Homo sapiens: one gene and its partners. The protein of the gene in region 2 purifies or fractionates together with the protein of the main gene of each other region. This does not show direct contact. Each region holds a gene or a part of one and is shown on either strand. Other genes may lie near its edges.

Region 1 (4,247 bases), on a different chromosome or scaffold from region 2:
ATTTAAATTTTGGTTTCAGTTTATCAAGATGAAATTTTTTAATGCTTTCTTAGATTTTTTTTTTCCTTCCGATAAACATCTATAGGCATACCTCAGAGATATTGTGGGCTTGGTTCCAGACCACTGCAATAAAGTGAACATTGCAATAAAAGCAAGTCATTTGAATTTCTTTGTTTCTCAGTGCATGTAAAAGTTATGTTTATATTATGCTATAGTACATTTAAATGTGCAATGACATCATGTCTAAAAAAATTAAGCATGTAACTTAATTAAAATATACTTTATTGCTAAAAAATGCTAACGATCATCTGAGCTTTTAGTGAGTTGTGATCTCACTGAAGGTGGAGGATTTTGCCTTGGTGCTGACAGCTGCTGACTGATCAGGGTGGTGGCAGCCGAAGGTTAAGGTGGCTGTGGCAATTTCTTAACATCAACAACAGTGGAATTTGTCACATCAGTTGACTCTTTCTTTCAAGAAAGATTTCTTTGTAGCATGAGATGCTATTTGATAGCATTTTACCCAAGGTAGAACTTCTTTCAAAATTAGAGTCAGCTCTCTCCAACTCTACTGCTGCTTTATCAACTAAGTTTATGGAATATTCTAAATCCTTTGTCATGTCAACATTGCTCATAGCATGTTTACCAGGACTAAATTCCATCTCAACAAAGCACTTTCTTTGCTCATCCCTAAGAAGCAACTCCTTATCCGTTCAAGTTTCGTCATGAGATTGCAGCAGTTCAGTCCCATCTTCAGGCTCTACTTCTAATTCTAGTTCTCTTGCTATTTCCACCAGATCTGCAGTTACTTCCTCCAGTGAAGTGTTGAACCCCTCAAAGTCATCCATGAGGGTTGGAATCAACTTCTTCCAAACTCCTGTTAATGTTGATATTTTGACTTCTTCCCATGAATTGTGAATGTTCTTAATGACATCCAGAATGGTGAATCCTTTCTAGAAGGTTTTCAGTTTGCTTTGCCCAGATCCATCAGAGCGATCGCTATGTCAGCTCTAGCTTTATGAAATGTTTTTCTGAAATAACAAGACTTGAAAGATGGCCAGGCACAGCAGCTCATGCCTGTAATCCCAGCACTTTGGGAGGCCAAGGTAGGCAGGAGCTCAGGAGTTCAAGACGAGCCTGGGCAACATGGTGAAACCCTATCTTAAAAATTAGCCAGGCGTGGTAGCTATAGTCCCAGCTGCTCAGGAGGCTGAGGTGGGAGGATCACCTGACCCTAAGGAGGTTGAGGCCGCAGTGAGCCGTAACTGGACCACTGCACTCCAACCTGGGTGACAGAGTGACCTGTCTCAAAAAAAAAAAAAGACTTGACAGTTGAAATTACCATTTGACCCATACGATGCAGAATGGATTTGTGTGTTAACAGGCATGAAAACAACATTAATCTTATATATCTCTATCAGAGCTCTTGGGTGACCAGTCATGAATGAGCAATAATATTTTGAAAGGAACCTTTTTTCAGAGCAGTGGGCCTCAACAGTGGATTAAAACATTTAGTGAACCGTGCTGTAAACAGATATGCTGTCATTTAGGCTTTGTTGTTCCATTTATAGAACACAGATGGGATAGATTTAGCATAATTGTTAAGGGCTGTAGGATTTTCAGAACAGTAAATGAGTTTTGGATTCAACTTAAAGTTACCAGCTATGTTAACCCCTAAAAAGAGAATCAGCTTATCCTTTGAAGCTTTGAAGCCAGGCATTGACTCCTCTCTAGCTATGAAAGTCCTAGGTGGTGCTATATTTCACTGGCTTTAAAATACATACATACGTATACATATATATATCTCTATATGTATATATGTTTTAATAAATAAATAGAAAATCCTCGATGGCATCTTCCAATAAAAGGCTGTTCTTCTCCATTGAAAATCTGTTGTTGAGTGTAACCACTTTCTTCAGTGATTTAGCTGGAAGTTCTGTATAACTTGTTGCGGCTTTCTCTCAGCACTTTCATAGAATTGAAGAGAGTTGGGGCCTTACTCTAGATTAGGCTTTGGCTTAACAGAATGTTGTGGCTGGTTTGATCTGTCCAGATCACTAAAACTTTCTCCATATCAGCAGTAAGGCTGTTTCACATTTTTATTTTTTTTGTATTTACTGGAGTAGCACTTTTAATTTCCTTTAAGAACTTTTCCTTTGAATTCACAACTTGGAGGACTGGCAAAAGAAGCCTAGCTTTTGGCCTAATCTTGGTTTTCAACGTGCCTTCCTCTCTAAGCCTAATCATTTCTAGCTTTTGATTTAAAGTGAGACAGTTGAACACTTAGAGGTCATTGTAGGGATATTAACTGGTCTGGTTTCAATATTGTTGTGTCTCAAGGAATAGGGAGGCCTGTGCAAAGGAAGAGAGAGGGAATGGCCAGTAAATAGAGCAGTTAGAACACTCACATTTCTCCATTTTTTAAAATTTATTTTTATTTATTTATTATTTATTTTTGAGACGGAGTTTCGCTCTTATTGCCCAGGCTGGAGTGCAGTGGCGCCATCTTGGCTCACCTCCCAGGTTGATTCTCCTGCCTTAGCCTCGAGAGTAGCTGGGATTACAGACATGCGCCACCACGCCCAGCTAATTTTGTATTTTTAGTAGAGATGGGGTTTCTCCGTGTTGGTCAGACTGGTCTTGAACTTCCGACCTCAGGTAACCCGCCCGCTTCGGCCTCCCAAAGTGCTGGGATTACAGGCATAAGCCTCAGCGCCTGGCCTTATTTATTTATTTTTTGAGACACAGTTATCATTCTGTCACCCAGGCCAGAGTGCAGTGGTACAATTTCAGCTCACTGTAGCCTCTGCCTGCAGGGTTCAAGTGATTCTCCTGCCTCAGCCTCCCGAGAAACTGGAATTACAGGTGTGTGCCACCATGCCCAGCTAATTTTTATATTTTTAGTGGAGACGGGATTTCACCATGTTGGCCAGGCTGGTCTCGAACTCCTCTCAAGTGATTTGCCCTCCTCGGCCTCCCAAAGCTCTGGGATTATAGACGTGAGCCACCATACCCAGCCGAAGCTCACCATTTTATATGGCCATGGTTTGTGGCACCCCTAAACAATTATAATAGTAACATCAAAGATTACTGACCTCAAATCACCATAACAAATAATATAATAATGAAAAAAATTGCAGTATTGCAAATATTTCAAAATGTGACACAGAAGTACAACGTGAGCACATGGCTGCTGGAAAAAGGACTCCAATAGACTTGCTTGGCTGATAGACTTGCTTGACACAGGGTTGCCACAAACTTGATTTGTGAAAAATGCAGTATCTGGGAAGCAGGATGAAGGGAAGCACAATTGAAGGAGATATGCCTGTATTTTCTTGTTGAAGCAGTAAACCTGAATAGCTAAGAGTTTTCTCCTCTTTCTAGTCATTTCATACTCCAAAAATAGTTACTGAGGCACAAAAAACAAAGCTCTAGACGAGATAAATGGTGAAATGGAAAACAACCTCAATTTGCCAATCAGTAATTTTAAAGTTTTATTAATTAATACATATATTAATTTCCATTTCATGATTTATATCATCTGGAACTTTTTTTTGTGTCTCAGTAAGTATTCTTAGAGTATGAAAAATGCTAAGTTGAGCATTCTGTCTAATGCTGGACAGGTTTTTTCTTTGTCCATGGTCCTGATAATTTCCTTGTTTCATAAAAATAATTCTGCATTAGTGTGTGTAGTCAAGTAATACACCAGGGTTGTAGTGAAGAAGGCCGGAGGAATCAGTGGGTTTGGCTAATACTGAAAACAAAAATTGTTTTTCTTTTTTGGGGAAATATGCTAATTTTCTTACCATTAACTTTTCCTTTCTAATTAAGTTATACTAAGGTAATATCAAATGAATTTGTAAATCCTGAATATTAATTGCCAGCTTTCCTAAGGGAAGCCTGAAAGAATTGGATGACAAGGGTTTGACCTGGGGTTTGAAATTCACTGTAGATAAACCAGAGTGATAAATCCATCATCAGATAATGAAGGATTACAAATCGTTATGTGAATATGTAGAATGTTAGAGGGTCAGAGCATATCATGTAATTCCTATTCCAGCCCGGTTATCTGCTGTGTGTATTCCCAACATACTTTCTACTAACAGTTTAGAAGTGTTATGTGGCGATTCCAGGGTCTCTCAAGACAGCTCCTTTTTATTAAAGTAGGAAAAAATACTTGCTAAATCACCACTTTTTTACTTGCTTACTCATTTATTTCCAACCTTATTTGGAGTTAGAATTGAGAAGGA
Region 2 (3,788 bases):
TATGCTTCATATTAAGACTAATAACTTAGATTTCTTTCCCCCTGCTTCATCCCAAGAGACTTTAGTGTTCTCTAAGTATCGTAATTTTTGCTTTCTAAAAACTCATATATTATTAAGCATGAGCTTTAAAGTATGGCTTAAACTTCAGTTGTAACGAATCTCATAAAATGCTAGCATGCTGAACTTTGACTCTACAGTCAGCTCACTATTGAGTTAGTCTTTCCACTAAAGACAGTTATCTAGTGGGTTTTACCTTGTTTTAGAGTAACTTAGGAAGCAGGGACAGTCATGCCCTAAAGTGAAACCAGTAGAAAACTGGCCTGTTTCATTTATTACCAACATGAGTTTGATTATACTACTGTGACTCTAGCTTCTGAAACAGCAGTTGCTCAAAGTGGGAAGCCTTTTAAGTGATTTCATTCCATTTGGATATTCTCAGAATGATAGAGTTGTTTGCCTTTTCGAACTTGTTTTCACAAAGGTATTTAGGTAGAACTTTCTAACATCACTTACTAGTAATCAGGAAGGTCATTTGCCACATAAAAGGCAATACCTTATTTTATTCCCTGTAATACTTTGTGAGTGTTGGCATTTATTTTTTTTTTTTATTTTTATTGTTGAGACAGGGTCTTGCTCTGTCGCCCTGGCTGGAGTACAGTGGCATGATCACAGCTCACTGCAGCCTTGACCTGCCAGGCTCAGGTGATCCTACCACATCAGGCCCCCTGAATAACTGGGAATACAGGCATGCGCCACCATGCCTGGCTAATTTTTAAATTTTTTTGTGGGCCGGGTGCGGTGGCTCATGCCTGTAAACCCCAGCACCTTGAGAGGCCGAGGCAGGCGGATCACGAGGTCAAGAGATTGAGACCATCCTAGCTAACATGTTGAAACCCTGTCTCTACTAAAAGTGCAAAAATTAGCCAGGTGTGCTGGCATGCGCCTGTAGTCCCAACTACTTGAGAGGCTGAGGCAGGAGAATCGCTTGAACCCAGGAGGCGGAGGTTGCAGTGAGCCAAGATGGCGCCACTACACTCCAGCCTGGCAACAGACAGAGACTCAGTCTAAAGAAAAAAAAAAAATTGTGGAGACAGATGGAGTGTCACTATGTTGCCCAGGCTAGTGTCACACTCCTGGGCTCAAGCAATCCTCCGCCTTGGCCTCCCAAAGCACTGGGATTTACAGGCATGAGCCACTGCGGTCAGCCTGATGCTTGGCATTTAAATGCCCACAGTTCAGCAGCAAGTGGTGAAGAATGGTGGTAATTCCAGTGATTTGAGTAGCTGAGCCATTCTTCTATTAAGTAACTTTGGATAAAACATCATTTCACTCTCTTAGAGAAAGTTATCATCTGTTATCCTTACAGTCAGGTAGTGGCTGTTATGGGATAAGTGTCTGTTTTTGAAAATGATCAAACTAAGACATACTTTCTGGATTCTGCAGTCACATGTGACTTAGGAGCCAAACCTTTTATCTGAAAACAAAATGAAGCCACAAAACCCAGACCTTTTGATAAGATAGCATAAAACCTTCTTGAGTTACTTTTAATCTCATGGGATCAGTCAGGCTATAGATTTTTGGTGGTTATTTCTTTACCCAATTTATTTTTCTATTCTCTAGAATAATAAATTTGTTGAAATGCCCTTTGCTCTCACTTGTCTGCTCTTACAGCTTTCCAATTGTAGCTTCCTGTTGTACCACCACACCCCAACTCCTTACCTCTTGTCTCTTTGGCAGTGTAGACTTCTCTCTGTCATAGGTCATAGCCCTGATCACCCTATAATCGTCTGTTTGCCTGTTTCCCTATTAGACTGTGACATCCTGGAGGGTAGGGGTTACATCTTTTGTTTTTTTTAAGACAGAGTCTCGCTCTGTCGCCAGGCTGGAGTGCAGTGGCACCATCTCAGCTCTCTGCAACCTCCGACTTCCTGGTTCAAGCGATTCTCCTGCCTCAGCCTCCCAAGTAGCTGGGATTACAGGCATGCGCCACCATGCCCAGCTAATTTTTGTATTTTTAGTAGAGATGGAGTTTCACCATGTTGGCTAGGGTGGTCTCGATCTCCTGACCTCGTGATCCGCTCGCCTCAGCCTCCCAAAGGGCTGGGATTACAGATGTGAGCCACCGTGCCCCGCCAAATTTTTGTATTTTTAGTAGAGATAGGGTTTCACCATGTTTGCCAGGCTAGTCTCGAACTCCTGACCTCAAGTGATCAGGGGTTACAACTTTTAACACCATATCCTCATTGTGCCCCTAAGTACTCCAAACCTAGGATTTCAGTTTATTGTTCTTTACACCCTAACTCTATCATTTAGCCCATGCCTAGTACATGGTAGGTGTTCTAAATAAACATTTGCTAATTGAAAGAATGTTGCCTTAATCCTAAAACTTTTATACTTTCAGACCCGTAAGAAACAGAAGGAAGATGTGGAAGTTGTAGGAGGCAGTGATGGAGAAGGAGCCATTGGGCTTAGCAGTGATCCCAAGAGCCGGGAACAAATGATCAATGATCGGATTGGTTATAAACCCCAACCCAAGCCCAATAATCGTTCATCTCAATTTGGAAGTCTTGAATTTTAGAGATGGATTATCTTGCATGCCAGAGCGCTGGAATGGAATAAAATGATGGCAGAAGTACAAACCAGATTTAGAGAATTGAGTGCTTGCAGTCAAGCAGAATGTACCTCCTGCAGAGACAAATCTTCTGCATGAGATTACTGATGCTTCACTTGCACTCTAAGCTGGAATCCAAACTCTGGTTTGTCTCTTGAAAATTTGACTCTATAAAACTGATCTGATTTTCTGTTTTTAAAAATAAATATATTTTTGGAAAAATGTGAGGCATCCTTAATGAAGTATAACAGTACTGTTAATTCCCAGACTTTAAAAGATAATTGCTACAAGATTAACATCATTCTTTCCATCTTTATTAAAAGACCCTAAGCACAGGACACTCTAGTTGATCCCTGCCACTTTCACTTAACCCATCTATTCAATAAGTATTTATTGAGTGTCTACCATGTGCCACTCAACAAAGATCCCTGCCCTTGTAGAAATTAAATTCTAGTGGATATTGTGTAAATCTGAAGAAATTGTAGGTACCCGATCTCTTTACAGAATGGCTTTGTAACTAGTTTGGGTATAATGTTGGGAGGACAGGCAATGGAGGAAAGAGGAATGCTTCTAACAGTTTTGCCATTATTCCAACTTTCCTTCCTTTCTCAACTTGCCTAAGTGTTTTTCCCAGAAAGAACCAGAGAGGCAGCTCGGAGGATAATTTTGAATCATGCCCTATTGTTCTGGGCATTAAAAAAAAATTTTTTTTAAAAATTTTTATTGTTTTATGTAGAGACAGGCATCTGTGTTGCCCAAGCTGGGCTTGAGCTCCTGACATTAAGCAGTCCTCTCAAAGTGCTGGGATTACTGTGCCTGGCCTGTTTTCACTAATTCAACACAGGGAATCACCAGCTGTGATCATAAGAGCCTCTTGAATCATCAGTTCTACGGAGACTCTTAGCAGGACTTTAGCCTTTTTGGGGTAGTTTAAGTCTGAGTAATACGAGGGGGAGAGGGACAGGTGTGGTGGCTCATGCCTGTAATCCCAGCACTTCGGGAGGCTGAGGCAGGAGGATTGCTTGAGTCCAGGAGTTAGACCAGCCTGGGCAACACAGGGAAACCCTGACTCTATAAAATTAAAAAAAAAAAAAAAAGAAGGGCCGGGCATGGTGGCTCATGCCTGTAATCCCAGCACTTTGGGAGGCTGAGGTGGGCAGATAACCTGAGGTCCAGA
Region 3 (5,024 bases), about 24 Mb from region 2:
CCAGGCCTCAGCTTGGCTCTGGAAGAGTCCAGGTGTCCCTTGCAGCTTGTGGAGGGTCTGTGTGGCTTGCACCTGCTCTCGGTGGAAAGGAGCACCCTGGCCATCCCCACACCTCGAGCTCTGGCCTGTGATACAGCCTGGTGTCTCTGGAGCCTGCGGGCACCGTGCCCCGCTGTGTTCTGGTACAAATCATCCGTGTGGCCCGGCTCCGTGCTCGGTCCCTTTCCCCCTGCCCCTCTGGCTGCCTCAGGCTCTCCAGCGTTGCTTCCAGGCAAGGCCCCAATGGCCTCCCTCCAGGGTCCTGCCTTGGGTCCCAGGCATGACTCAGCCACTTCCTGTTGCTCAGGCCTGATGTGCTGGGACAGCCACACTCTAGTGCCCTTTGTCTTAACTTCAGTGGGACACAGGAGTGGCTCAGGGAGGCCCCGGGGCTGTGCTGAGAGGTCCCACCAGCAGAGCTCCTGGCCGAGCGACCTTGTTGGACACGTGGCTGGCCATGCAGCCCACAGCGTCACCCCTGAGCCCTTGCATGTGTCCTGCGGCAGGCTGACCAGTGGCGGCGTTTGTGGAGGTCATGGCCTTGGAGCCAGAACTAGGACCTAGCAAGCCACTGACTCCACTTCCATTTTCTGTCCATAAAGAGGGGTTTGTTTCCATTAGAAGCTGCCGGATCCTGGAAGGACTCAGGAGCCCTTGGCCCACAGAGCAGGTGTGTCAGTGCCCCAGTGCTACCAGAACAAAGTACCACAAACCAGCGGGCTTAAAAGAAACATATCATTTTACAGAAGTCAGAAGTCTAAAGTCAGGGTCAGCAGGGCCCTCCGAAGGCTCTAGGGGAGGCTGCTTCCTCCCCTCTTCCAGCTTCTGGGGGCTCCAGGAGCTCCGGGGCCTGTGGGTGCCTCGCTCTGGTCTCTGCCGCGTCGCCCGTGATGTTCCCCCGTGTCTCTGTTCCTATCTCCCTCTTAGAAGAACACTCTCTCTATTCCAGGGTGACGTCATCTTAATTATATCTTTAATGACCGTATTTCCAAATAAGATCTCATCAGAGGCACCGGGAGTTAGGGGTTCATGTGTCATTTTTCGAGGGGCACAATTCAGTGCATGACAATTTGCCCCATGGTGGGCCCCTCCCACGTGCAAGTGACAGCCCCAGTGTCCCCAAAAGTCTTCACCATTTCAGCATCAACTCCAAGTCCAAAATCTCATCTAACTACCATCCACACAAAGTTCCACACACATCTCAGCCTGTAAATGCATCTTAACGAGGTCCAGGTGAGGCTGGAGTGTGCGCCATTCCTCTACGTAAATAGATCTAAACAAGGTACAGGTGAGGCTGGAGTGCGCGCCATTCCTCCAGCTGGGACGCCGTGAAATCAGCCAACAGATGATCTGTTTCAAAAGTTCAGCCGTAAGACAAGCATACACATTCCCACCCCAAAAGGGAAAACTGGGAGGAAAAAGGACAGCGAGTCCAAACCCAGCAGCCGAAATTCCACTTGACTTCCAGGCCTGCGAATCCTCTTTGGCCCCCTGCTCCGTCAGCCTTGGCCTCGGCGGCTCTGCTCTTGGAGCCTGCCTTCCTTTCACTCCAGCCTGGCAGCACTTCTGCGGGTGTAAAATTCTCACACCTTGTTGGCTTATGCAGCTCACCAGTGCCGAAGCCTTCAGACAGGCGGGTCCGCAGCCCTTTCCCGGAGGCCCCACCTGTCCCTGTCTGCTGCTGAGATGGTTAGTTGGATACACAGGTCACACCTCATGTCTAGCAAACCCTGGTCCAGCCACACCCTTGGCCACGTCTCAGAGCTGCCTGGATAGAGTATTTTTCAGATCCCCAAGGGCTGGTGCCTTTTTGCTTAATGGTCCCTGCCTCACTGATTGTTTCCCTCTTGCATTCTGCTATAAGTAGCAAGGAGAAGCCAGGTGGCACCTTCCACACTGCTTGGAAATCTCAGCTTGATGTCCAGGCTCATCAGCTGCAGGTCCCACTTCGCACCCAACAGCAGAGCAGCAGCCAGCCAAGCTCTCTGCTGCCTCCTCCGGTTCCCAGTAGCACGGTCATTTCCATCTGAGACCTCACTGGAAGCACCTGTTGGGTCGGCATTGCTGCCGACATCCAGTCTGTGATGCTGTGTGCATTCTCCAAGACGGCGGCAGCTCTCCTCTTCCAGCCATTTCCAGGCTTGTCTTCATGCCTTTCTACCAGCAGTCGTGCAGGCCTCACCAGTTCTTCCAGCCTCTCCCCATCACCCACTTCCAAAGCTGCTGCCACAGTTCTTGGTGTTAGGTTTTGGCAGCACCCCTCCTGGCCCTTCCTGGTACCAAAATCTGTTCGTTTACTGTGGCTGCTGTAACAAAGTGTCACAAACTGGGTGGCTTAAAAAACAGAAATAGATTGTCTTAGTTTTGGAGGCTGGAAGTCCAAGATGAAAGTACTGGCAGCCCCGTTCCCTCTGAACCCTCTTAGAGACCTCCGTTGCCCCCCAGCTTCTGGTGTTTGCCACAGCCCTTGGTGTTTCTTGGCTTGTGGCCGCGTTGCTCCAGGTGGTCTCTGTCTTCGTGTGGCCCCCTCCCCGCCTGCCTGTGTCTTCCTATCTTTCCTTTTCTTAGAAGGACCCCAGTCAGTTGGGTTAGGATGCACCTCAGTTACATCTGCATCAACCCTGTTTGCAAATATGGCCACATTTCCAAGCACTGGGGGTCAGGAGGCCCCTGTAGCCTTTTCGGGACACACCTTATGATGCTGGCCCCATTGCCCTTCCATGGTGGCTGAGCAGGTGGGGACCCCACCCAGTCCTGTGCTCTCGCTGCTCACCTGCCTGCCAGGGTGGGGTGGGGCAGGTGGCTCTGGGAGCCCCTTTCTCACTGGTACCAGGTGGCAGAGCCCACGGGCCTGAGCGCCCTGCAGCCGAGCTGCCCGTGCTGACCCTGGCCCTCCTTAGGCCATGCGGACCCTCAGTTGGAAGCACACCCTGGGCCTGGTGACCATGGACGTGGAGCTGGCCGACCGCACGCTGTCTGTGGCGGTCACCCCAGTACAGGCGGTGATCTTGCTGTATTTTCAGGACCAAGGTGAGCCCACCAGCCCCTAGCTGGCCTGCCCCGGCCACACGGCCCAGCTGTGGGTGAGGGGCTGTTCCCCAGTGAGGGTGTGGTTTGGGGCAGCTGCGCCAGCAGGCGGCACCCTTCCCTTTCCCACGGGCAAGGCAGGGTGGCCCGGGAGCCCCCCGACCTCTCGGCTGACGGGAGGCAGGGGAGGTGCAGCCCGTGCCCAGGCTGCCCAGCGTCCCGGTGACTCTGCACGCAGCCAGCTGGACCCTGGAGGAACTGAGCAAGGCGGTGAAGATGCCCGTGGCGCTGCTGCGGCGGCGGATGTCCGTGTGGCTGCAGCAGGGTGTGCTGCGTGAGGAGCCCCCCGGCACCTTCTCTGTCATTGAGGAGGAGCGGCCTCAGGACCGGGACAACATGGTGCTCATTGACAGTGACGACGAGAGCGACTCCGGCATGGCCTCCCAGGCCGACCAGAAGGAGGAGGAGCTGCTGGTGCGCGTGCAGGCCCCACGGGGGGCCAGGGGGCGGGGGCGAGGCCTGCAGGTGCCTGACGGGGGCTGGCCTGTGTCCGCAGCTCTTCTGGACGTACATCCAGGCCATGCTGACCAACCTGGAGAGCCTCTCACTGGATCGTATCTACAACATGCTCCGCATGTTTGTGGTGACTGGGCCTGCACTGGCCGAGATTGACCTGCAGGAGCTGCAGGGCTACCTGCAGAAGAAGGTGCGGGACCAGCAGCTCGTCTACTCGGCCGGCGTCTACCGCCTGCCCAAGAACTGCAGCTGACACATCGCCCGCCCGCCCGCCCGCCCGCCAGGCGCTGCCCTGCAGGTGCTCTCGTCCTCCCGTGCCAGCCCCCGCCCGCCCGTGTCCCAGAATGCACTGCTGAGGAGCATGCCCACCCCCACCCCCGCAGTGTGCAGATTAAAGCAAGTCAGATCATCCTTTTCTGTCCTGGTGGCTTTGTGGGGCCCCCCAGGATCCTCCTCTAGCCTGGGCCTCTCTCTCAGCCTGGCAGGGCCTGCTCCTCAGCAGCAGGTGAGGGGCCACCTAGGCCTACACATCTGCACTGGGAATGTAGCCTCCTGAGAGAATCCCGGGCCGCCCCCGACCCAGGGTGCTCAGGGAGCGGCACGTGAAGGTCCACGTCACGCCCGGGCCACGGCTCAGGCAGCCACGTCCTAGGGCTTAGTGCTTGCTACCCGCCAGACCTCCAGCTCCATTCCTGCGCCTCTGGCCTTTAGAAGGAGCCCTGGGGTCACCCTCTGCTCAGCCTGTGCCCACCTCCACACGCTCGGCCAGGAGGTCTCGGGCGAGGTTGGGACGTTGTGCGGGTTCGGTTGGAATTGCTGAGGCTGGCGAATGACCTCTAGGCCAACACGCCTCGTCTCTGGCAGTGAGGCTCTGCCGAAGGCTGTGCCCTGGTGGCCAGAGGGACTGGGCACTTGTCCCCTGCTCCACACTCAGGCAGGGTGGCCGGAGGGCTCAGCTTCACAGGTGTGCCTCAGAAAGGCAGGTCGCCCCTACGTCCTTCACACGTGTGGTCACGCGTGTGCAGGCTGCCCAGGTCCTGTCCTAGAGGCTGGCACTAGGAGAGGGAGACGCCACAAAACTGAGCAAGGGCCCTAGGGTCCAGTTCTGGGCTCTTCTGCTGCTCAAACCTGGGCCTCTGTCCCAGAGGTGCCGTTTCCAGGCCAGACACGTTCCACCCCGATGGCGCCGTCCTCGCGGGGGACAAAGGCCCTTTGAACTGGTGCCTCGAGTCCCGCTCCTGCTGCAGCGCCTTCCCAGGCTGTGAGCTGCGCCTGGTTTCAGTGCTCCCACCGCTGTCCCCAGATGCCCTTGCTGGTTCCCACATGTCCACGGTCCTGGGCTCCTGCAGCCGCCGCCCAGCACCCTCCCACCTCTCCAGCTCTGGCCTGATGCCCTTGCTGGTCCCATGTCCATTGTCGTGGGTTCCTGCAGCTGCCGCCCA
Region 4 (4,247 bases), on a different chromosome or scaffold from region 2:
AAGCGGGGGCTCTTTATGAACTCGGAATTCCTCCCTGTTGTGAAGTGCACCATTGATAATACCCTGGACCAGTGGCTACAAGGTAATAGTAGCATTGTAGCATAGCGCTCTTGTGCTTTTGAGATACATTCGGTTCAGGCTTTTCTGTTGTAACTTTGTTTTTTCATTGGTAAGCAAGATAAATCTGAGTATAAGCAAGAATGGCTATAGATTTAACGTTTCCAGCTAGATGAATTAGACTTTGATTATCTACTTTAGCTTCTTTAGTAAAATACATCTGACCCAGGCAGATAATATTTATAGCATTTTAAATACCACTTGGTGCTCAGGACCTTGTTCTCTCTTCCCTAGCATCAGGTCACATTTCCTTTCCAGTGCCTCTGTCTCCTGTTTCCTAGGGGTGTGGCCTGTTGCCTTCCTGAGGCCAGCAGCCATCCTGTTTTTGTACTGGCACCACATGTACATGTAGAAGTTGACGTGTGCTTGCTGAGTGAGCTTGTTGTACCAACTCAGTTTTGAAAACCTGGGACCGCACAGCTATGTGATGTCACAGTGGTGGCTTTCTATCAGCAGGATTTGTGATTGCAAGGAAATTGTAGTTACTCGTTAACAGTGTAGAAGTGATTCTGACTTACATGAGGCAAGCGATGGGGCCTTTAGATTTATGGAAATGTATCTGTGTGTTAAATACACCTGAAACTGATTTTCAGGAGTAGACTCCTTGATCTTTTCATTCTTTTTAGTTCATTCAAATGCTCCCAGTAAATATCTGACAGTTGCTTGCTTTGGGTTAATACTAACCTTAGTAATAGTAGTAGAAACAATTCTTGCTTTGATTAGTGAAAACTATTAGTAATCAATAGACCCTAAGCGTTTGAATATAATTGAGTTTAAAACTATCCACCTGTAACACTAGGAAATAAATTTCTGAAAAAAATTAAATTGTAAACCAAGTTGTGAGGGATATACTTGGAAAGCCTGATTTCAGACTCTCCATGTTTATATTTAAAAGCTGCATTGTATTTGTCATTTCCTGTTCAGATTCAAAGATCATATAGCTTCATAATTTTTTGGATAGTCATTTTTATCCTCATTTTTGGGGAAAAACATGTTATTTCAAAGGTTTTCGTGTTTCGTTTTTATTCAATTTAACATTTGATCACCTATGGCAGACCTTTGCTATTGATAATAAATACTTCCTTAAATCTTTGCAGATTCCCTGATTTGCACATTTCATATAATGTATGGAACTTTGGCAGTGATTAGAACATTCTCTAAAACAGGGCCCTGATTGCCTTGTTGCTCTTTAGCGCATTTGGTGGTTTCCAGCATTGCTGTCAGCCTCCATTGAATTTGACTTGCCACACAGATTTATCAAAAATGTGTTTATTTTTTAGTGAAAAACTAGAATTTTTTTTAAAACAAAACCTCTTAAATATATAGTCTCCTCTCTTACAAGCACTAGCAGTTGGCTTTGGGGTAGAGAACAATAAATTAACTGAAAATTGGAAATTGCATTCATATTTGTGTGTAAAAATCACAGATGCATATGTGGACTTTCAGGATCACTCACTGACAACTCATTAGATCTGAGATAACCCATTAAATCACTACACTAATCTGAAAATGCAGCCAATTTATATTATATAAATGTCGGTTTTGTTTTTTCTTTCTTTGAGACAGAGTCTCGCTCTGTCGCCAGGGTGGAGTGCAGTGGCGCGATCTCAGCTCACTGCAACCTCCACCTCCTGGGTTCAAGCGAGTGTCCTGCCTCAGCCTCCTGAGTAGCTGGGATTACAGGTGCACGCCACCACACCCAGCTAATTTTTGTACTTTTAGTAGAGACGGGGTTTCACCATGTTGTTCAGTCTGATCTCGAACTCCTGACCTCATGATCTACGTGCCTTGGCCTCCCAAAGTGCTGGGATTACAGGCATGAGCCATGGCGCCTGGCCTATATAAATGTTTTGTACAGTATTTATCTCCTCAAATTATAATTTTGGGCAAAGAAAGCGGGTTTCAAGTTTAAGAACTTTAAAAAGTTTTATTAACTTTTTCATATTTTGTTATGGAAATTTAAAGAATATACAAAGTAAGTAGACTAGTGTAATAAACCACAACACCAATTTTAATAGTTGCCAGCATTCTCCTATTTTTGCGTCATTTGTACCTTCACCCATTGCCACACTCAATTTTCCAAATTGTGCCATTTTACTTTCCCACCAGCAGTGGATTGCAATGCAATTTTTGGCATTGTCCTTTTTTTTTTTTTTTTTTTTTAAGACTTGTCAAGTGCAGTAGGAAAGCAAAGTAAACCCAAAGCAAGCAAATAAAAGCAGAAACCAATGAAACCAAAAACAGATAAGCAATAGAGAAAATCAGTGAAACAAAATGCTGGTAGACATGAGAAAGTCATTGAAGAGAGGCTGAACCACCATGCTCTCCTTCATGATGAGCTGTTCAAAGAAGAATCTCATCTGTTCTCCCTTAACCTTTCTCCCTCTGCTGCCTCCCCCAAACCTAAATGTTTCCACCTCCCAGTAGACTGACATCCTCACAACTGTGTTCAGTGGAGTCTACAGTTTTCATCTCACTCCATCTCTACAATGGTGAGGCTTTTAGCTACATTTTCCTTCTTGAAATGAGCCTCCCTTGACTTTGTCATAGCACACTTTCCCAATTTTTAAAAAAAATCCTCTTTAAAAATTCTCAGTATTTGTCACCATTTCACTGTCACTCCTTTGTTGACCCTTTTGGAAGTCATCCTTGCTCCTTTCCCTCCTTCCCTTCTCTGCAATAGCTGACCCATTGCTGATGCCTTTCAATCCTCATCATAGATATTTCTTGAATTTGTCCACATTTTACTATTTCTACCTAGAACAGAATGATGATTTTGTGCCTGGACCACTGTTATAGCCTCCTAAATAGCCTCCTTGCTTTTTCTCATCTCCATTCCAACCATCTCAATTTAACTGACAGAACAGTCTTTTAAAGAATAAACTGATGTAACACTCCTGCTTAAAGCTTTTCAATGGCTCCTGATTCAGCTGTGAAAGAAATCCCTACTGTGTGGCACCAGGACCTGTGTGACCTGCAAGGCGCCTGTTTTCCTCAACAAAGCCTCTTTTACACCACTTGCTCCCCACACCACCCTGGCCCCTTCCACTTACTCAAAAACACTGAGCTCCTTTTCACTGTGGGGCCATTGAATATGCTGTTTTCCCTCCCTAGAACCTTTTCCTCTCATTCTTCACCTGCCCAACTCATATTTATCCATGCAGCCTCAGTTTTAATGGCATTTCCTCCCAGGCCTTCCAAGACCACTCTCCCTCAGGCAGCTTTCCTGACATCTTTAGCCTGCCCGCTCATGCTCTCTACCTTTTTTCTGTATCAAAATGCCTTTGTTTGCAAGTAAAAGAAGGCCTGACTTAACCTGCCTTTAAACAGTAAGGACACAAGTATGCCTATGTTATTAGAGGTCTGCAGGTAAGGCACGTAAAGGGTCATCTTTTTCCAGTGTCTTCAACTCCATTTCTCTGAGGTTCCATCAGCTACATTCTGTGCCATGACTTTATCCTCAGTGCATTTTTCGGATGGTAATCAAATGGCTGTAACATGTTCACCTCTAGCTCAGCATGATACTCAGAGGAAGAATAGAGTTGCTTCTAGGAGTTTTGTGATGAGAATGAGGGAATTTCTTTCCCTGGAGCCTCCAGCAAGCTTGTCATTAAGTACCTCCTCAGGTTTCTGGCTCGAGTTGCATCTCATGCACACCTCTCAATCTATCCCTGTGGCAGAGAATGTCTCTTATTGAAAAAATGGCCTGGGTCTGCCTGTCTCTGAACTAACACTGCATCAGGAGAATGGGATTGCCTTGATCACCCAAGATCAGTGATTCTCAAAGTGTGGTTTATGGAGCAGCATGACCTGGGCACTTGTTAGAAATGGAGTTTTTCTGGCCCCACCCCAGACCTACTGAATAAGAATCTCTGTGCTCTGTGCATGGAGTGGGGCCCACTCATCTGTGGTTTAACAAGCCTTCCAGGTGATTCTGGCACATGTTAAAGTTTGAGGACCCCTGGCCAAGACTAGTAAGGATCTAGTTCTGGAGCTGAAGTCAGTCCCATCAAATATAATATATGGTGGAGGGTAGGGTGTGACAAGGGGTATTTCGGGGAGACAACCACAGTGACCACTGCACCTTTATAGCACTCCTCACAATTTGTAATTATGCATTTGTTTGTGTC
Region 5 (4,849 bases), on a different chromosome or scaffold from region 2:
TTGCAATTATAATGAGTACTGTTCCTTTAGAACCAGATGTTGTCAAGAGATGCAGAATCTAATAAAATGAGTTTTGATCCTGATTGAAAGTTAAAGAAACATTTAGAGCTCAGTCAGGGAGGAAAGAGCTTGAAGAAGAAAGCTAGCAGCAACCTTAGGAGAGAAGCAATGACAGTGAAGAGTTCTGTCCACACAAATTAGTTGAAAGAGGTTACAAAAGAGGCTACCAGAGGTTACAAAATATTGCATAACAGAGTGAAGTACCCAATGGATATACCATTAATGTTTTTCTAAGTCAATGGGAAGACACTTAAATGTCTTAAGAGTCTACAGAAATACAAAATCAAACCAAGCCAAAGAGGAAGTCAGCTGCAATTTTAGTGGGTATTGCAGACTTCCCTCTCCTCCAACGGAAGAATTAGCTAATTCTTAAACTCCAGAGAGGCTGGCCTCGATGTCAACTGCATAGTGAAACATAAAATCTTTGAAATAATTATAAAAATAGCTCAGTATATCCACCAGTGGAGTAAGAAGAATTTCCCTGAATATTTATAAGCACAGGCCTAGTATCCTGGTCACTAGTTTCTGGCCACTAAGGAGCCTCAACTGATTGGGAAAATCACATCAATTGGTTTGAGATGGTTGAACTATTTCTTCCATGATATTATTGAGCAAATAGGCTTGCTGCCCCCTGCTCACAGAAGCCAATATCTGGACACTGGGTTTTGAGGAAAGAAAAACTTTATTGCAAGACAGGTCAGCAAGGAGACAGGAGGTGGGCTCAAATCTGCCTCCCCAGTTTGGAATCTGAGAAAATGTATGGCTTAGAGGGTGAGGGAAAGGATTTAGGAATGTTGGTTTGGCAGGGACTGATTGAAGGGCTTCAAATTTGACCACTAAAGGTAAGGTATGTTGAGGCAGATTTCAGCCCTGGATCTTTTGGGCCAATGAGCCCCTAGCTTCTGAAAGAGGTCCTGCATTTAGGTTCCCGTCATGTCCTTGTCTTCTTGGTTCCCAGGGGAGGGATCATTTGTTCTAGGTTCTGTTAGAGGCAAAAACATTTTTATTGTGCATGCCTGGGCTAAATGACTTACAGTTTTTGGCTCTGTTATATCTACAGAGTAAATTGACATTTGTTATCAACAAAGTACGGCCCATTTGGGCTGGTCCCATGGTTATAATGGGTGTGTGGACGGTCGAGTGTTTCAATTCTGGGAAAGTTTGATGTGATTGTATTCAGTTCAAGGAAAATGTGTGAATGATATCATATATAGCATATAAAATGTTTACAATATTTAAGAGATTGGGCATACTAGCATGTTTGATAAATAAATTGATGATGCAATTTAAAATGCATAACAGAGTATTTGATTTTAGACTTATGATTTTTAAATTGAATATTATAAAGTAATTTGGCTAAATGTGTGAATAGTATTGGAATATTTAAAACAACTTAAGATTTATTATGTTAGTAAATTTATTAGTTTACAAAACTGCATAAATAGCTGGAAAAGCGTTACTTGTTAGGCTGAGAATTTTGAAGATTATTTTTCAAGTTCTTTGCCAGACACGTGTGGCTCTCACAAGTAAGTTTGTTGGTCTCTAGCCTTTCTCAATGGCCACTGAAAACCAGATTTTGATTACGAAATGTCTGAAATACAGTATCTTGGTTTGAACCGTGAGTCCTTCCTGCCAATGTAAGAACTTTTCTTCCTCCCTTAACTTTGCTTCCTTCTTTCCTGCATGTTACCACTGGCAGAGCAAATATGACTCAGAAACCGGCTCCTCAGGGTTGTAACATTAGATGATACAGGCTTGGGTCGTTACACATGACACCAGTGCCTTTGTTTCATTGGGCTGGGCTCTCTGGAAGGTGTGCTGCTGCCTGAGCTGCTGGAAAAGCACTGACAGGTGTTTGCTAGAAAAGCACTCCTGGAGCTTGCCACCAGCTTGGACTTCTAGGGACTTTCCTCTCAGCCAGGAAGGATTTTGATATTCATCAGAAATACCTCCAGAAGATTCAAGGAGCTGTAGAGGTGAAGTAAGCCTGTGAAGGACCAGCATGGGAATCCTATACTCTGAGGTACATCACCTTTCTGAAAGCAGAGTTCCAAAGATGTTAAAAGTTACTCATGCTTTTCAGATGCAATTTTCTATCCCTGTTAATATATTTCTGTTTTGTCTGTTCAACTCCCTGGGGGAGCATTAAGTCAGAAAAAATAAAGTCCTATGTGTTATTCTTGTTGATATTCTTAATAGTTTAAGACAAAGTATTTTGTAATTCTAAAATATTAGCTAGATCTAAGTTGAGATGAATATAATACACATTTCATAGTATCTGGATGTTTGCAAGGATAATTTGGACAAAATCGAGTTTGAGTTGTGCTTTTCTCATGACAAACACTCAGAGAAAAAGAGAAAATTGTACTCAATTGGATTTTCTAAATATCCAAAAGATTGACTGCCTCTTTTATGGAACCACATGACCAGAGTAATGCCTTTCAGCTTGGTATTTGAAGGGAGATTCACCTTTAGTAAATATTAGTAAAGACTATCACTATGAAGAAGAGGAATAATAACATATTTTGATGATTTGATTATTTTCTTTTCACATCTGATAAATACTGAGGTACTTTTACTTGTATTGGAAGTAACTTATTAGAATCAAATGGATTTTTAATGATGTTTCAAGAAAGTACAAGCAAGGAATGTTTAGACAAGAGTACAAGAGGTGTAATGATGTCATTATACATAATTTACTCTCTCTCTCCTCTGACACAATTAACTGGTTAATCTGCATTTCATTGCAGATGCTCAGGGGAACCTTCTTGGATAGTTTTGATCTAGTATTAAAGACAGTTTATTTGCAGTTATTTCTAATGCCATGTGTGTATATATCTCTCCGTGTGTGCAAATGCAGTGTTTGATTGGTTTATAACTCTAGGTATGTCTTGCTCAGTGATTTTAGCCTCATGAAGGGATCATATACATGAAAATGACAAAACATATAGTGCTTTTAAATGCTACTCTGGTAACTCTCAAACTTTAGACTGCCCAAGTGTCAGGGAGAGAAGTTTGTTTGAAATGCAGTTTCAAGGGACTCCAACCCAGAGAGTCTGTTTCACTCAGTCTATGGTAGGATACAAAAGTATACTTTTTAAAAGGAGCATCCCAGGTGGTTCTGACATAGGGGTGATCTGTTTACCACCATCCTGAGAAAGAAAGACTGCCACAGGCCAGTGCTTTCCCGTTTTTAATGTCTATACAGATCTTCTGAAGGTCTTGTTTAAATGCAGATTCTTAGTTTGTAGACCTGGGTGGGACCTAAGATTCTGCATTTTGGTTGCTTTTTCAGATTGCATGTGGGAATTATATGTGATTTGGAAAAAGGAAAAAAAAAAGCCTAGTCTCATCCTCAGGTATTCTGATGTAGAAAGTTGGAAGTAGGACCTTTCATCTATAGTTTTAAAGAGTTTGAGACTCTTTAAAATTAAATAGTAATCTCTTAAATATTTAAACATAGCCTACTCATTTGTAATATATCATTTGCTCTGTGTTTCCTAAGGATAAAGATTGTGAGCTACTCATTAAGGACAAGAAAAAAGCCTGCTGGATCCCTGGTCCTATGTTGCCTGGAAGAATCTATTCAAAAAAAAAAAAAAAACTTCCCCCAATTTGAGTGCGGGAAGCTCCTCTAGATTGGGGACATAGGGTTATCATTTTTCCTTAGAGCTTTGCAGTGCTAATAGTTATGCAATATATATTTTTAAGAAAGAAGGAGAGAATGAGGGAGGATCCCAGAGAGCTGGTCCTGAAATCTGCACTAGAGGATAAGCTTAGAGCTCAGTGAGAGGCCCTAATTTTGAATAAGTAACTCCAACTGCGTAAGATGGACTTTTAAACAAGGCTGATTCATTTAAACCCTTATCAAAGGTATTTGTTCATAATATTTACAATAGCAACAAACATGTATTTAGGGCTTCTTATAGATTAGGCCCTATTTTAAGCACTTTATATATGTATTAACTCATTTAATACAGCAATCTTGTAAGAGTCACTTTTAGTATCCTTATTTTACAAATGAAGAAACTGAGGAAAAGGTAGTCACTGGCTCATAGTTACACAGTTGAAAAGTGCTTATTGGCTGGAGATTGGTGGCTAGGATGAGTCCTGTGTTTACTCATTCAAAGAGATTCTTCTTACATCACTGCTGAACTACTAAATTTTTCTACTACTTGTTATTTCAACAGATATGTCATGCTCCATAAGAGAATTGGTCTTAACCACTCTGGTGTTCTGCCACTGTTCTAACCAGGATGGTGCCCTGTTCCCTTAGTGGAAAGAATGAGTAAACTAAATCCAGGTCCAATGAGGTACATTCTACTGCTACCTTGCAACAGAGAACTGTTGCATTGTGAAGTAGCACAAAAATCGGAAAGAAGAAAAATGCTGAGAACTTAAAAGAGTTCAGGAACTAATACTTAGGAGACTTAAAGAATCTTTTACAGACTTTTGGTCTCTTCAGTTGCAGACACAGGCCCCAAAAAGCGTTTCTTGAAAATCATATCTTAAATGATGTATTCCTTTAAACATTGGGAAGTTCTCATTATAAGGCTGTAAGTAAAAGGATGCACACACACCCACACACACACACACACACACATGCACATGCACACACACAAACTTAAAATTAATCCTTTGGCAATGGATATGTTTTTCAGAGAAGCTGATGTTACTACAGAAAAAGGAAATATAGTTCAAAAAACAGAAAGATTGTCTTGAAATATACAATGCCTAGGGAGAGCAATTTAGATCAAGCAAGTTTTATTGGAAAAGCTGGTACAGTTGA
Region 6 (4,247 bases), on a different chromosome or scaffold from region 2:
AAATGTGTTAGTAACTTGCCCAAGATCACAGGTGGTGAAGGTAGTATTCAAAACTTCAGACCTCAAGTTCTTAATGACTACAGTAGATAGAAACATGGGAAAGTACTTACAATACTTTGATTTGAAAAAGAAGAATATAAAATATATACTAGGTACAGCCCTATAAAAATATGTGTGTGTGGGCAAGGACAGAAGATGAGCTATACAAATGAACACAGATGTTATAGTGGTGTGGGATGGTTATGAGTGAAACAGTTCTCTAATGTTGTTAATATATTTTAAGAAAAAATTTTTAGAAGTCATGAATTCACAAATAACTCTTCTACCATTACTATTATTATTCTGCTTTCAACCATGGACACAAAGTGTGTGTGTGTTTCCATAACTCCTGTGACACAGCTCACTGCCTCCTCTACCCTCCTCAGTGGCCTTCCCCCAAGGGAGGCTAGTGCCTACCTTAGTGCTATACTATACTGGTCCATTGCCTCCTGATACTCATTGACAGCTACAAGGAAATCTCCTAGGATCCGATGCAGGACACAGTCACTCTGATTAGCCAGTGCGTTCCTCAGCAAAGCAATTCCATCTTCATATTTCTGTTCTCTGCCTGGGGGAATAAAAAAGACCCTCACTTAAGTCATGTACAAAAAAACCACAACTACCATTCTGACCATCTCTTTGCAGACATCCTCAAGAGAACACTGGTGCAACACAAAGCGAGGGCAAGCACACCTGAAGCCCTATTCAGTTAAGAAATTTTCCATCCTGGCTAACACAGTGAAACCCCGTCTCTACTAAAAATACAAAAAATTAGCCGGGCTTGGTGGCAGGTGCCTGTAGTCCCAGCTACTCGGGAGGCTGAGGCAGGTGAATGGCCTGAACCCAGGAGGCGGAGCTTGCAGTGAGCCGTGATTGTGCCACTACACTCCAGTCTGGGCAACAGAGCGAGACTCCATCTCAAAAAAAAAAAAAAAAAAGAAATTTGCAGTTTGAATTATAATGTTTTAAATGGGCTCTTAACTTTAAAAAGCCAAACTGCTTTGCCAACTAGCCCAAATTCAATGAACCAAATTATGAGTTTATCATAAATCAGGACTGAAAAAAAAAAAAAAGGGCCAAACGGGAAGTCATAAAATCATCCAGATAGCTCCACTCAAAATGGCTAAAATCAGTTAGTTATATTCAGCTCCAACTAATTCAGGACAACTCAAACCAGATAACAGTGAGCCGAGGCTGGGCACGGTGGCTCACACCTATAATCCCACCACTTTGGGAGGCCGAGGCGGGTGGATCACAAGGTCAGGATTTCGAAACCGGCCTGGCCAATATGGTGAAACCCCATCTCTACTATAAAAAAAAATAATAAAAAATAAAAAAATTAGCTGGGCATGGTGGTGCACGCCTGTAGTCCCAGCTACTCAGGAGGCTGAGGCAGAAGAATTGCTTGAACCCGGGAGGCGGAGGTTGCAGTGAGCTGAGATCGCACCACTGCACTCCAGCCTGGGTGACAGAGCAAGATGCCGTCTCAAAAAAAAAAAAAAAAAAAAAATTAGTGAGCCGAATAGATACCAACCAATTATAGGTGGTTGGAACCAAGCCAAGCAGATCTAAGCCAGCTACGTTTGGTTGGGCTAAATATAAACCAATCCAAGCAGGCTCAGACCTGCTGCAAAAGGCACACACCTGTCTAGTCATCTGTAACTAGCTGGGACAAGGGGCTCCAACTGAGGTCAGGTTTTATAAAAATTAATGATGAACAGGACAGAAAATAAGACACACTTACTAAGTAGTTCTGCTTTTTTCACCACAGCCTTAATGTAATCTGGCCTTTGGGTCAGGGCTTTATCTAATAATGTTTTGGCTTTCTCCTGTGTCACTGGGTCTTCAAGACAAACGGTGGCTAAAAGGGTAAGGGTCTGTGCATTTGCTCCCAGAGTTTTGTAAACGTTGTTAGCCATTACCATTGCTTCTCGAATACTGTTGGAGGCTAAGTAACATTCGATAAGACCTGAAAAAAGTAAAACACGTGAAGACATTCAATGCCATTACCATTCCAACCCATGCTTCCACTCTGACAGCTCTCCAAATTGCTAACCTTCAAAGTTTCAGACAAAGGGCAGGCCACGGGAAACTGATGGTGAGATTAGACTGGCAAGAGTGTTGATGGAATAGCTAAGAAGTGCTCTTCCCCAGAGAACTTGATGGATGTAGAAAAAGACTGCCTTCAAAGGCACCTTCAGTTTAGGGAAGGAAACAAGCACATGTAAGGAACCTGCAGCATGTGAGCACCCCATCTGACCACTGGAAGAATAAATGCGACACTAATGATTAGTCTGTCATATGGCCAAGAGATCAAAGTAGTGAGAGATGATGTTCCCAACAAAACCCAAGGTTTTGCTGCCTCTTAACAAGCAGTTATTCTCCAGCTGCATTCGGTCACCTGTAGGGCTAGGTTTAAGATGGAAGACTCCTAGGGTCTTTATTTTATTATTTATTTTTTTTGCGACAGAGTTTCACTCTCGTTGCCCAGGCTGGAGCGCAATGGCGCCATCTCGGCTCACTGCAATCTCCGCCTCCCGGGTTCAAGCGATTCTCCTCCCTCAGCCTCCCGAGTAGCTGGGATTACAAGCATGCACCACCACACCCGGCTAGTTTTGTATTTTTAGTAGAGACGGGGTTTCTCCATGTTGGTCAGGCTGCTCTCGAACTCCTGACCTCAGGTGATCCGCCCAGCTCAGCCTCCCAAAGTATTAGGATTACAGGCGTAAGCCACCGTGCCTGGCCTGGCTCCTAGAGTCTTAAAGTGAATTTACAGTTTGACAAATAAAGGACTTATTGTCAAGCAACTTAGGGAGAAAGACTCTTTTATTTGAAACGTAACAGCTGTCTCAAAAGGCACTTGCTGAGGGCTTCCCTAAACGAGATGAACAGTACTTACCACATGCACCAAACAGACTGCAACTGGCAGCCCTTGCCTCTTTCCACACCCACAGCGAGACGCCCTATGAGGAGGCCACCTTGAGAAGAGTCAACTCTCAACTCTTCATGCCAGTAAGTTGAGGAGAACAGAGGAATAACTTTTTGGCACAAAGTGCTCATCAAAACAAAAAAACAGCTTAAAACCCCAAACCCACACAATCCTTGGCAGATTTTCTCTGCATACTCCTCCACCCTAGCAGCATTTATAACATTCATGCACACCCTTCCACACACTATGGTTACTTAACCAGAAATTACCTAACTCTAACTATTTTTTTTTTTTTTTTTGAAATGGAGTCTTGCTCTGTCACCCAGGCTGGAGGGCAGTGGTGACATCTCGGCTCACTGCAACCCATGTCTCCTGGGTTCAAGCAATTCTCCTGCCTCAGCCTCCCAAGTAGCTGGGACTACAGGCGTGCACCACCATGCCTGGCTAAATTTGTTTCTATTTTTAGTAGAGATGGTAGTTCACCATGTTGGCTAGGCTGGTCTCGAACTCCTGACGTCAGGTGTTCCACCCGCCTCAGCCTCCCAAAGTGCTAGGACTACAGGCATGAGCCACCATACCCAGCCAATTACCTAACTCTTAAGGGCAACATGTTGGATTCCACATACAGTTGTTTGCAATTACTTACTGAATAGTTTTACTTCCCTGCTAAAGCCCTACTGGAACTTCAGAAAAAAACAGAATGCACTTGCCTAACCTAAATCTCTACCAGCAAAAGAAGGAAGCTCCAACTGGAAACTGTAAGAAATATCAAAGGGTGTAGTCAGAGTTGCCCTGACCTAAATCTCCAAATGGCAGCTTAAGAAGCCTCACTGGCCAACTGGGAAACATCCGCTGTCCAAATATTATAGGACGGACTATTCAACCGCATCCCTGAGCTCTGGTGAAATAGGCATGCAGTATAATGGAATTAACATGATTAACAGCAGCTGGGAAGACAGGGAAGTTACAGTTTCAGGATCAAGAAGTTAATCTGAAATCAATGGTTGGTTTGCTAGAGCTTCTTTCAGAACAAAGACAATACTCTTTCCCCCTCAACAAATCCAGAGGCATAGCTCTCTGGCTATATAAGCAGATTTGTTCTCTTTCCCAACATCCAAATTTTATTTCTCAAATTTGAACTCATCTTCCTGTTAAGAGCAAATCACTCCTAGACTCCTAGGTTTATTTTTAAATGCTTATAAAAATATGTTTTGGAGGAACTGCATCTTGTAAGATCTATTTTAATGTCTGTGACTGAGTCACCAAACGTTGCTGAAAC
Region 7 (4,247 bases), on a different chromosome or scaffold from region 2:
TTGGATCAGAGTGAAGGAAGCAACACTTCTCTAGACCTGCTTCTTTCATCTGAAGGTTGAAAGTCATCCCCAAGATGTCTCATGGCCCAGATGTCAGGGTTCCTCAAGGTCAGCCTGACTCAGACAAAGTGAGAACTTCAGGGAAACCAGGGAAGTTCTCTTCCTCTCCAAATCTTCCCTCACCTGCTTGTTGTTGGCTGCCTTATCCCTGGCCAGTGCCTTCTACTCTGGTGGTGGTGGTCTTGTTGTTTTTGAGACAAGGTCTTGCTCTGTCACCTAGGCTGGAGCACAGTGACGCAGTCATGGCTCACTGCAGCCTTGATCTCCTGGCCTCAAGTGATCCTTCCGCCTCAGCCTCTTGATTAGCTGGGACTATAGGCACATGCCACCATGTCCAGCTAATTTTTATTTTTTATTTTTTGTAGAAACAGGGTCTCCCTGTGTTGCCTAGGCTCTTCCACTCTGCTTTGGAGCAGAGACACCTGACAGTGAAGGACCAAATGGCTTCCATATACATCAGGGGTGAAGTGACTGACAGTGGCCCTTGCCTGGGAGAGGCTGAATATACAAACAGACAATGGCTAGACCATGTAGAAAAACAGAACTCTGACGCACAATAGCAGCAACCAGCACAGGAAGCCAGCCTACTATCCACAAGTCAGACTTGTAGGAAGTCAGACCACTATCTTTACCAACCAGTCCAGCAAGCCAAATAATGACCACTGTAACAATTGGCCTCCAAAGCCAGGACTTGATTAATAACTGATAGCTGCCCTAATTTTTGCCCCTGCTTCCAACTTAGGACCAACCGGAGAAAGCCAAATATGTACTCCTAACCAATCACATAGGATGTCCCACTCTTTTTTGAGACAGAGTTTCACTCTTGTTCCCCAGGCTGGAGTGCAGTGGTGCAATTTCGGCTCACTGCAGCCTCCACCTCCCAGGTTCAAGCAGTTCTCCTGCCATAGCCTCCACCTCCCAGCTTCAAGCAATTCTCCTGCTGCAGCCTCCCGAGTAGCTAGGATTACAGGTGTGTGCCACCAGGCCTGGCTAATTTTTTGTATTTTTAGTAGAGACAGGGTTTTGCCATGTTGGCCAGGCTGGTCTTGAACTCCTGGTCTCAGAAGATCTGCCCGCCTCAGCCTCCCAAAGTGTTGGGATTACAGGTGTGAGCCACCGTGCCCAGCCAGGTGTCATGCTTCTAGTTAGCCCACCAACAGCTTCCCCATGCCAACAGCCTGCAATGGGAGCATCCCTGAAGCCTTTTTTTCCACTACAGAGCATTCCCATTCCTTTGCCTGCCTCTAAGTCTCTGCCAAAAGCAAGTGATGGTGGTTGACTTCCTGCTACAACAAGCTCTGATTGGCTGGGCGCAGTGGCTCATGCCTGTAATCTCAACACTTTGGGAGGCCAAGGTGGGTGGATCAGTTGAGGTCAGGAGTTTGAGACCAGCCTGGGCAACACAGTGAAACCCCATCTCTACAAAAAATACAAAAATTTGTTGGGTGTAGCGGCGCACGCCTGTAGTCCCAGCTACTTAGGAGGCTGAGGCATGAGCATGGCTTGAACCTGGGAGGCAGAGGTTGCAGTGAGCCCAGATAGCGCCACTGCACTTCAGCCTCGGTGACCCAGCGAAACTGTCTCTCAAAAAAAAAAAAAAAATTAGCTGGGTATGGTCATGCACCCCTGTAGTCCCCCCCCACTCAGGAGGCTGAGTCACAGGAATCGCTTGAACCTGAGAGGTGGAGGTTGCAGTGAGCCGAGATTACACCACTGTACTCCAGCCTGGGTGACAGAGCAAGACTCCATCTCAAACAAACAAAAAAAAGAACAAGCGCTGAATAAATAGCCTTTGTTTGTTCTCAAAAAAGAAAACAACAACAGAATAAACAGTAAACAGGCTGCAGGCTAGATTTACTGCTCCCTGATCTAGAATAATGGTTTTGGACTGATGACAAGATCCCAGGCATAGATGGAGCAAGATAGAAGCAAGGAGTATTAATTTTATTTAACAAACACATATAGAGCCCTCACTATGTGCCAGATATTATTCTAAACACTTTACAACTACGGATTCATTTCATTATCATTAAAATCCTGTAAGCGATGAGCACCATGATGATCCCCAGTTTGCAAATAAGCACACTGCTCAGAGAAGTGAAGGGTCACACGGCTGGTGAGTGGTGGAGCCAGGATTTGAATGCAAGGAATCTGTCAATGTCTCTGCTGTTTGTGCTGTTAGAGAAAAGCTCCACCTGCACAGGGAGAAGCCTGATGACAGGGCCTGGTGGTCTCTGTATCCCTGGGCCTGGACCTTAGCAGACCTCAGTTAGTAGTCACTGAGATGAAATGGAATGGAAGATGAGTAGTAGAGTGCCTGTCAGGCGTTGTGATGATGACAGGGCCTGTGGACCCACTGTGTCCTTGTGCCCACTGCAGGGGACCCGAAGCTGCCAGTACTGTACCAAGTGGAGCGGACACGAACAGGGTCGAGCTTCTCGGTGCGCTCTGTGAAGGCCGTGCAACATGGGAAGCCCATCTTCATCTGCCAGGCCTCCTTCCAGCAGGCCCAGCCCAGCCCCATGCAGCACCAGTTCTCCATGCCCACTGTGCCACCACCAGAAGAGCTGCTTGACTGTGAGACCCTCATTGACCAGTATTTAAGGTGAGAGACCTGGAGGCTCCATGGCAGACTTTTCAAAATGCAGCTGCTATCTGTTTGTGGGTCATAGAATCCTTTAGTGGGTCTTGACCAGCATTTTTAAAATACAGATTAGAAAAGAAGATACTGGAGTGAATAATATGTATGTATTAAGGGCAAGAATCCTTTTGTGAAACTTGAGGTTTAGTCATGTGTGTTTCTGGTGTGTGTCTGTACTGGGTCATGGTATAAAATGAAGGGCTTGGCCGGGTGCAGTGGCGCATACCTATAATCCCAGCACTTTGGGAAGCCAAGGCAGGAGGATTGCTTGAGACCAGGAGTTGGATACTAGCCTCGCCAACATAGCAAGACTCCATCTCTAATTTAAAAATAAGGCTGGGGCTGGGTGTGGGGGCTCATACCTATAATAACACTTTGGGAAGCCCAAGTGGGAGGATCACCTGAGCCCAGGAGTTCAAGACCAGCCTGGGCAACATGGTGAAACCCTGTCTCTATAAAAAATACAAAAATTAGCCGGGTGTCGGGGCATGTGTCTGTAGTCCCAGCTACTTGGGAGGCTGAGGCGGGGGGATCACTTGAGCCTGGGAGGTGGAGGCTGCAGTGAGCCGAGATCGTGTTACTGTGCTCCAGCCTGGGCAACAAGAGCAAGACTCTGTCTGAAAAAAGAAAAAAAGAATATATATTTTGTTGTTGTTTATATATATACATGTTTGTTTGTTTTTGAGATGGAGTCTTGCTCTTGTTGCCCAGGCTGGAGTGCAGTGACACCATCTCGGCTCACTGCAGCCTCTGACTCCCAGACTCAAGTGATCCTCCCGCCTCAGCCTCCCAAGTAGCTGGGATTACAGGCACCTGCTACCATGCCCAGCTAATTTTGTATTTTTAGTAGAGATGGCGTTTCACCATGCTATCCAGGCTGGTCTCAAACTCTTGATCTCAGGTGATCCACCCACCTTGACCTCCTAAAGTGCTGGGATTATAGGCATGAGCCACCATACCTGGGAAAAAAAACCATATATATATTTTATATATATATGTATATAGAAATACTTCCGTAACCACTTGTTAAGTACCACCTCCCCAGCCCCCTAAGTGATTCCCTCTCTCCCCCAGGCCCCTGGTCCAGCAACTTAGGACTTAATGCACACCAGGAGTGAGTGTCCTCTGGAGAGCTGCAGCGCTATGGCCTATGTTTGGTCACTGCCTTTGCATTAGTGCATGTTTTTGTTTGTTTGTTTGTTTTGAGACAGAGTCTCGCCCTGTTGCCTAGGCTGGAGTGCAGTGGCATGATCTCGGCTCACTGCAACCTCTGCCTCCCAGGTTCAAGCAATTCCCGTGCCTCAGCCTCCCAAGCAGCTGTGATTACAGGCACATGCCACCATGCCTGGCTAATTTTTGTATTTTTTTAGTAGAGACCAGGTTTCGCTATGTTGACCAGGCTGGTCTTGAACTCCTGACCTCAAGTGATCGACCTGCCTTGGTCTCTCAAAGTGCTGGGATTACAGGCGTGAGCCACCGTGCCCGGCCACATGTTTTATGTATATAAAACATATGTACAAAAATACAAATATGTATTTTCCCCTAA

Evidence for each region.
Region 1: the proteins of CDC26 (region 2) and ANAPC4 purify together in Homo sapiens (affinity purification with mass spectrometry; 11 studies listed by BioGRID and IntAct, with this or other methods). This does not show direct contact.
Region 3: the proteins of CDC26 (region 2) and ANAPC2 purify together in Homo sapiens (co-immunoprecipitation; 7 studies listed by BioGRID and IntAct, with this or other methods). This does not show direct contact.
Region 4: the proteins of CDC26 (region 2) and ANAPC1 purify together in Homo sapiens (co-immunoprecipitation; 6 studies listed by BioGRID and IntAct, with this or other methods). This does not show direct contact.
Region 5: the proteins of CDC26 (region 2) and ANKRD22 purify together in Homo sapiens (co-immunoprecipitation; one large-scale study listed by IntAct). This does not show direct contact.
Region 6: the proteins of CDC26 (region 2) and ANAPC7 purify together in Homo sapiens (affinity purification with mass spectrometry; 5 studies listed by BioGRID and IntAct, with this or other methods). This does not show direct contact.
Region 7: the proteins of CDC26 (region 2) and ACOT8 purify together in Homo sapiens (affinity purification with mass spectrometry; one large-scale study listed by BioGRID and IntAct). This does not show direct contact.

The regions. Positions count from the first base shown.
Region 1 is NC_000004.12:25,383,494-25,387,740, forward strand, and holds part of ANAPC4 (anaphase-promoting complex subunit 4), read left to right. Parts: intron 1-4,247. UniProt on the Homo sapiens protein: Component of the anaphase promoting complex/cyclosome (APC/C), a cell cycle-regulated E3 ubiquitin ligase that controls progression through mitosis and the G1 phase of the cell cycle.
Region 2 is NC_000009.12:113,266,053-113,269,840, reverse strand, and holds the end of CDC26 (anaphase-promoting complex subunit CDC26), read left to right. Parts: intron 1-2,401; coding exon 2,402-2,578; 3' UTR 2,579-2,849; downstream 2,850-3,788. UniProt on the Homo sapiens protein: Component of the anaphase promoting complex/cyclosome (APC/C), a cell cycle-regulated E3 ubiquitin ligase that controls progression through mitosis and the G1 phase of the cell cycle.
Region 3 is NC_000009.12:137,173,753-137,178,776, reverse strand, and holds the end of ANAPC2 (anaphase-promoting complex subunit 2), read left to right. Parts: intron 1-660; coding exon of another isoform or gene 661-709; intron 710-995; exon of another isoform or gene 996-2,939; coding exon 2,940-3,069; exon of another isoform or gene 3,070-3,261; coding exon of another isoform or gene 3,262-3,304; coding exon 3,305-3,540; exon of another isoform or gene 3,541-3,622; coding exon 3,623-3,835; 3' UTR 3,836-3,993; downstream 3,994-5,024. UniProt on the Homo sapiens protein: Together with the RING-H2 protein ANAPC11, constitutes the catalytic component of the anaphase promoting complex/cyclosome (APC/C), a cell cycle-regulated E3 ubiquitin ligase that controls progression through mitosis and the G1 phase of the cell cycle.
Region 4 is NC_000002.12:111,772,694-111,776,940, reverse strand, and holds part of ANAPC1 (anaphase-promoting complex subunit 1), read left to right. Parts: coding exon 1-82; intron 83-4,247. UniProt on the Homo sapiens protein: Component of the anaphase promoting complex/cyclosome (APC/C), a cell cycle-regulated E3 ubiquitin ligase that controls progression through mitosis and the G1 phase of the cell cycle.
Region 5 is NC_000010.11:88,848,821-88,853,669, reverse strand, and holds the start of ANKRD22 (ankyrin repeat domain-containing protein 22), read left to right. Parts: upstream 1-1,825; 5' UTR 1,826-2,062; coding exon 2,063-2,083; intron 2,084-4,849.
Region 6 is NC_000012.12:110,375,610-110,379,856, forward strand, and holds part of ANAPC7 (anaphase-promoting complex subunit 7), read right to left. Parts: intron 2,235-4,247; exon of another isoform or gene 2,096-2,234; intron 2,009-2,095; coding exon 1,784-2,008; intron 608-1,783; coding exon 457-607; coding exon of another isoform or gene 453-456; exon of another isoform or gene 1-452. UniProt on the Homo sapiens protein: Component of the anaphase promoting complex/cyclosome (APC/C), a cell cycle-regulated E3 ubiquitin ligase that controls progression through mitosis and the G1 phase of the cell cycle.
Region 7 is NC_000020.11:45,846,868-45,851,114, reverse strand, and holds part of ACOT8 (acyl-coenzyme A thioesterase 8), read left to right. Parts: intron 1-2,439; coding exon 2,440-2,665; intron 2,666-4,247. UniProt on the Homo sapiens protein: Catalyzes the hydrolysis of acyl-CoAs into free fatty acids and coenzyme A (CoASH), regulating their respective intracellular levels. Displays no strong substrate specificity with respect to the carboxylic acid moiety of Acyl-CoAs.